2 separate regions of the Homo sapiens genome follow, and region 2 is linked to region 1. The links come from fine-mapping of genetic effects on gene expression. A gene starts in region 1. The other region holds a variant in brackets. All regions are shown on one strand. Distances are between the middles of the regions. Region 1 holds the start of RPS13 (ribosomal protein S13). Region 2 overlaps PIK3C2A (phosphatidylinositol-4-phosphate 3-kinase catalytic subunit type 2 alpha).

The links. PIP is the estimated chance that this variant, and not a neighbour inherited with it, causes the effect.
Region 2: its variant is the best candidate, but not a certain one, in a credible set for the expression of RPS13 in pancreas (GTEx, PIP 0.71).

The regions. Positions count from the first base shown.
Region 1 is chr11:17,076,254-17,079,171 of GRCh38, reverse strand. RPS13 (ribosomal protein S13) reads left to right here and starts at 1,505. Exons shown (of 6, transcript NM_001017.3): 1 at 1,505-1,553; 2 at 1,695-1,743; 3 at 1,926-2,004. The coding sequence starts at 1,531. RefSeq lists an enhancer at 1,272-1,471.
Region 2 is chr11:17,108,669-17,111,586 of GRCh38, reverse strand. PIK3C2A (phosphatidylinositol-4-phosphate 3-kinase catalytic subunit type 2 alpha) reads left to right here. Exons shown (of 33, transcript NM_002645.4): 22 at 1,026-1,155. Among named protein-coding and RNA genes, the nearest start is that of RPS13, 32 kb to the right of the region's middle. The variant A/T (reference allele first, on the strand shown) is at 1,410.

The DNA of each region.
Region 1 (2,918 bases):
CCAGCGTCTTGCCAGTTACTTTAAGCTTGTCGACAGGAGTTTGATTTCACTGACCTCCCTCCTTCCTAGAGCTATGCTTACTTTTTAAAATTTTAAGAAGCTGCTTCATTTGCCCATTCTTTCAACGCATTGTTGTGTACCGGCACTGAGTCAGTCTTTTTCTTTCTTTCCTTTTTTTTTTTTTTTTTTAAGACAGAGTCTTGCTCTGTTGCCCAGGCTGGCGCGCAGTGGTGCTATCTCGGCTCACCGCAATGTCCTTCCCGGCTCCAGAGATTCTCCACCTCAGCCTCCTTCGTAGCTGGAACCAAAGGCACGAGCGAGCACGCCCGGCTAATTCTTTGTATTTATAGAGAGGGGGTTTCGCCATGTTGCCCAGGCTAGGTCTGTCTTAAAAGAGCTTCTTCCGGCCAGGCGCGGTGGCTCACGCCTGTAATCCCAGCACTTTGGGAGGCCGAGGCGGGCGGATCACCTGAGGTCGGGAATTTAAGACCAGCCTGACCAACATGGAAAAACCCGTCTCTACTAAAAATACAAAATTAGCTGGAAGTGGTGGCGCATGCCTGTGATCCCAGCTATTCAGGAGGCTGAGGCAGGAGAATCGCTTGAAGCCGGGAGGCGGAGGGTGCGGCAAGCCGAGATCGCGCCATTGCACTCCAGCCTGCGAATCAAGAGCGAAACTCCGTCTCAAAAAAAAAAAAAAGCTTCTTCCTTGACGGTTCCCTTTTCCCATGAAATTCAAATGCTTCATTTTATCCCTCATCCTCTTGGCCTTTGCAGTCTTGCTCCCAAGGCTCTTCCCTGCCCGCCAACTCTCTCACTTGGGAACATAGCTCCGTAAGCCTCTGCCCAACCCTTCTCCCCGGCGAGCCCAGCGCCCCAGAGCCCTGCGCAGGGGAATTCGAGTGCGGAGGGCGGCAGGCATCCGTGGGGACCTGGTTCAACTCCTTAGACCGGTTCTTCACCGTCAGCGACTCTCCCCTGACAGATTAGGGTAGGATTTAGAAATGAGAAATGGAAGCGCTGGCTGGGCGGTAGCCGCTGCCATGGCTTCCCGTGTGGTCCTCATCACATGCTATTGTATCTGTTAATTTATTAGGCGCAGGGCCGACTCTGAGGGATCTAGTGCCAGGACAAAGCCAGGCACTGGTGAATGAGCAAACACCTGTGTATGGCTGCTTCTTCCAGCCCTACCTGCTCCATACCCACCCCCAGCGCAGCATTCGAATCTTTGTGATCTCGGCGTCCACAGGGAATTTCGACGCAAGCTGGCGTCAGCCTCAAATTCCCGCTCTGGCAACAAGGCTGACCAAAGACCGATGCATGCCGGGATGAGGCTGGATTGACGATCTCTTGCGACGCTGAAATGCATTTCGGGAGATGTAGTCACACAGACGGGCGGTGGCTGCGCAGCGTAGCTCCGCCTCCTGCGTGAGAGGAAGCGGGGACGTGTGAGGTCACTTCCTGCGTGTTGGGTGGCTTCCTGCGGCGTTTCCACTCTCGCTCTCCTTTCGTTGCCTGATCGCCGCCATCATGGGTCGCATGCATGCTCCCGGGTGAGCTCGGGGCATCAAGCCGGATTGCTGGGCGGGGGGTGGGAGGAAGACAGGGAGTGTGGGCAGCGGGCCGAGGGGATGATGTTCTGGGCTGCTCTGGCACTAGCCGCCACCTCACCTCGAGACTGCTTCTCTCCCCAGGAAGGGCCTGTCCCAGTCGGCTTTACCCTATCGACGCAGCGTCCCCACTGTAAGTAGCGCGCTGGGACCGGGGAGAATCCGGGGAGGGGGTTGGCATTTGTCTCGGGTGAAGCGACGCCAGGGTGAGGAACTTGCGTGTATGAGGAGCGCGGTTTTGCGGAAGGAGAGACCGCTGTTCTGCGGCGCCATTCCTGGGTTCTCATCCTAAGGCTGCTTTCTATTCCATAACAGTGGTTGAAGTTGACATCTGACGACGTGAAGGAGCAGATTTACAAACTGGCCAAGAAGGGCCTTACTCCTTCACAGATCGGTGAGTGTTTGTGTCTAACATAGCCTATTTCGCCTGTCCTCGTGTGACTTGTAGGATCTAGTAGGTGGTAAAGTTATTTTAAAAATAGCCAAAACTCTGGTCTCGCCACCGTGCTAGAGGCATCATTGTAAGCACTTCACATGTACTGATTTCGTTTAATTCTGACCACAATACTTTGAAATAAATCTTCATGGCTTTCACCCCAGTTTACAGTTGAGGAAGCAGAGGCACACTGCCGCTGGATACTAACCAGCCCCAAATCACACAGCTGTCAAGTGGAGGAGTTGGAATTGGCTAAGCAGAGTGCCTGACACAGTTCCTCACAGTTAGGTGTGGTTTGAATCTCAGCTGCGTGTGACTTCGTGCAAGTGGCTTCATTCAGCAAATGTTTACCTTCTATGTGCTGAACATGGTTCTGGGGCCTGAGAACATACTACTCTCCGACTCCCCCGCCCAAAAAAGCCAGCCGCAATGTGCCTGTAGTCCCAGATACTTGGGATGCAGAGGTGAGAGGATCACCAGAGCCTAGAAGTCCCAGGCTGCAGTGAGCTATGATGAAGCCACTGCACTCCTGGGTGACAGAGAGACCCCACCTCTTTTTTTTTTTTTTTTTGAGACAGTCTTGCTCTTGTCGCCCAGTCTGGAGTGCAGTGGCGCGATCTCAGCTCACTGCAACCTCCACCTCCTGGATTCAAGCGATTCTCCTGCCTCAGCCTCCCGAATAGGTGGGATTACAGGCGCCCGCCAGCAGGCCCAGCTAATTTGTGTGTTTTTGTTTGAGACCGATTCTCACTTTGTCACCCAGGCTGGAGTGCAGTGGTATGATCTCGGCTCACTGCAACCTCCGCCTCCTGGGTTCAAGCAAGCAATTCTCCTGCCTCTGCCTCTGGAGTAGCTGAGACTACAGGCCGCAC
Region 2 (2,918 bases), 32 kb before region 1:
ATATTTTTTAAGGCAAATTCTCCTTATTCTTTTCCATAATTTTCTTGGCTAGTCTCAGAATGTATTCCTTATTATGTGTTTTTAAATTATTTTATCCAGTTTAAAGAAAATGAAAACTTATTCAAGTTTTAGTTAAAAAGTAATTCATTTTGGGGGGTTAATTTTTTTAAGTAAACTTTTCATTTTGAGATAATTATAGATTCATAGGCAATTGTAACAAACTGTACAGAGGAATCCTGTGTACTCTTCTTCATAGTAATATCTTGTATAACTGTAGTGCAGTATCACAATCAGGATATTGGCATTGATACAGTCAAAATGTAGAACATTTCATCATCCCACAGATTCTCCATGTTGCCTTTTTAGAAAATTGAATATAGGCCACATATGGTGGCTCATGCCTGTAATCCCAGCACTTTGGGAGGCTGAGGCAGGCAGATCACCTGAGGTCAGAAGTTCGAGACCAGCCTGGCCAACGTGGTGAAACCCCATCTCTACTAAAAATACAAAAATTAGCCAGGTGTGGTGGCAGGCACCTATAATCCCAGCTACTCAGGAGGCTGAGGCAGGAGAATCAGTTGAACCTAGGAGGCGGAGATTGCAGTGAGCCGAGATGACCCCTCTGCACTCCAGCCTGGGTGATAGAGCAAGACTCAGTCTCAAAAAATAAATAAATAAATAAATAAATAATTGAATATAATTCACATACCATAAAACTGAACCTTTTAAAGTGTACAGTTCAGGGAACTGAGATATGAAGAGGTTAAGTACCTTTCCCTAGAATGCTGCAGAAAAATAAAAAGGCAGTTCATTTTATAGGTGTGTGCAACCATGCCCAGCTAATTTTTGTGTTTTTAGTAGAGGCGGGGTTTCCACCATGTTGGCCAGGCTGATCTCGAACTCCTGACCTCAGGTGTTCTGCCCACTTTGGCCTCCCAAAGTGCTGGGATTACAGCTTTCATAGTATGTAATCTGTTAAGTCTTTTGGAGATGTACAAGTTTCATTTTGTTTCCTTGATTTCAAGGTTGGTGAAGATCTTCGGCAAGATATGTTAGCTTTACAGATGATAAAGATTATGGATAAGATCTGGCTTAAAGAAGGACTAGATCTGAGGATGGTAATTTTCAAATGTCTCTCAACTGGCAGAGATCGAGGTAAGTTTATTAGCTGTGTCTTGATGTCTTATTTTTTTCCTTGAACTTAGCTTAAAGTGTACCTGCCGTAAACATCCTGATGCAGATACCCTGGTATCACAGTTGTTTCTTATTTTAATCCAGTGTTACTTTATTGATTCAGTTGCTCATAATTAAGTCTCTTTGAAAAATAACTTAGTGGCCGGGCATAGTGGCTCATGCCTGTAATCCCAGCACTTTGGGAGGCCAAGGTGGGTGGATCACATGAGGTCAGG[A/T]GTTTGAGTCCAACCTGGGCAACATGGTGAAACCCTGTTTCTACTAAAAATGCAAAAATTAGCCAGGTGTGGTGGCGTGCCCCTGTAATCCCAGCTGCTTAGGAGGCTGAGATGGGAGAATAGCTTGAACTTGGGAGGCGGAGGCTGCAGTGAGCCGAGATTGCATCACTGTATTCTAGGCTCGGTGACACAGTGAGACTCTATCTCAAAATAAATTAAAAAAAAATTTTTTTAACCTAGTGTAGCCTAAATAAATGCTTTGCAGTAATCAGAGGTGTCCATTAATTGACCCAGTGAGGACTGTATGGTCTTTAGCTTTTAAACTTAAAAATAATGCCATATCTCTGGGTGCAGTGGCTCTCACCTGTAATCCCAGCATTTTAGGAGGCCAAGGCAGGAGGATCACTTGAGTCTAGGAGTTTGAGACCAGCCCAGGCAACACAGGGAGACCCTGTCTCTACAAAAATGAATAAATAGTCTCAGCTGCTCTGGAGGATGGGGTGAGAGGATTACTTGAGCCTAGGAGGTTAAGGCTTCAGTGAACCATGATCATGCTACTGCACTCCAACCCAGGTAAAACAGTGAGACCTTGTCTCAAAACCTAATAAATAAATAAGGCCATATCTAAGTTAAATCAACTTTGATTTCATTTTTATAAAATAAAGTCATACAAAGTTATTTTCTACTAATAGCAGATTTCTATCTTACTATTTATTGAACTGTTTTGAAATAATGGATGTAAAACATCCTAATATCTGATATGTATTATGTGCTCAATAAATGGCAGCCATCATTATTCTTATTCAACAAATGTTTGTTGTTTACCATCTATAAAATGGTAAGAATATATGGTACTCATATTTTAGAAGGAAGCAATAATATGTACAAGTAATCAGAGTATGCTTTAATAAGCTGAAAGCTCTAAAAGTTGTAAAGGCAATACCATCAGGTTTTAAACGAAAGATCATCTGCTGTTGGTGGAAATGAGAAACACTTCACAAATTCTATGCATAGGCACTAGGAAATCACCTGAAAGATAATCGTCCTTCCAATATTTGCCATTCAATTTATGCTTAAATGCCTGTAGTGAAGGGGAATTCACTGCATTTCAAGGCGGTTCATTCTATCCTGTGTAGCTCTGATAGCTATAGATTTCTTTTTCATATTCAGGTGATTAATGGGAACTGAGTCCTGGTGTCTTTTACCCATTGGTTCCAGTTCTGTTCAGAGACTATCATATAATTAAGTTAAATCCATCTTCACCCTTACCAGTAGTGTGGCTTCAGATTCTGAATTCCAAATTCTTCAGCCATTTATGAAATATTACTTTAAATTACCTTATCACCTTATTATTCTCCTTGCAAATGGTTCAGGTAATCTGTTGTCTCTAAGAATGGCACCTGGATTTTGTAGAATACAAAAGGGTGGGCATAGTGTCACACATGTGAAACTATTCATAAATAAAATCAGTAAGTTGTCATCATACCAGCTTCTGCTAAGCCATGTCTT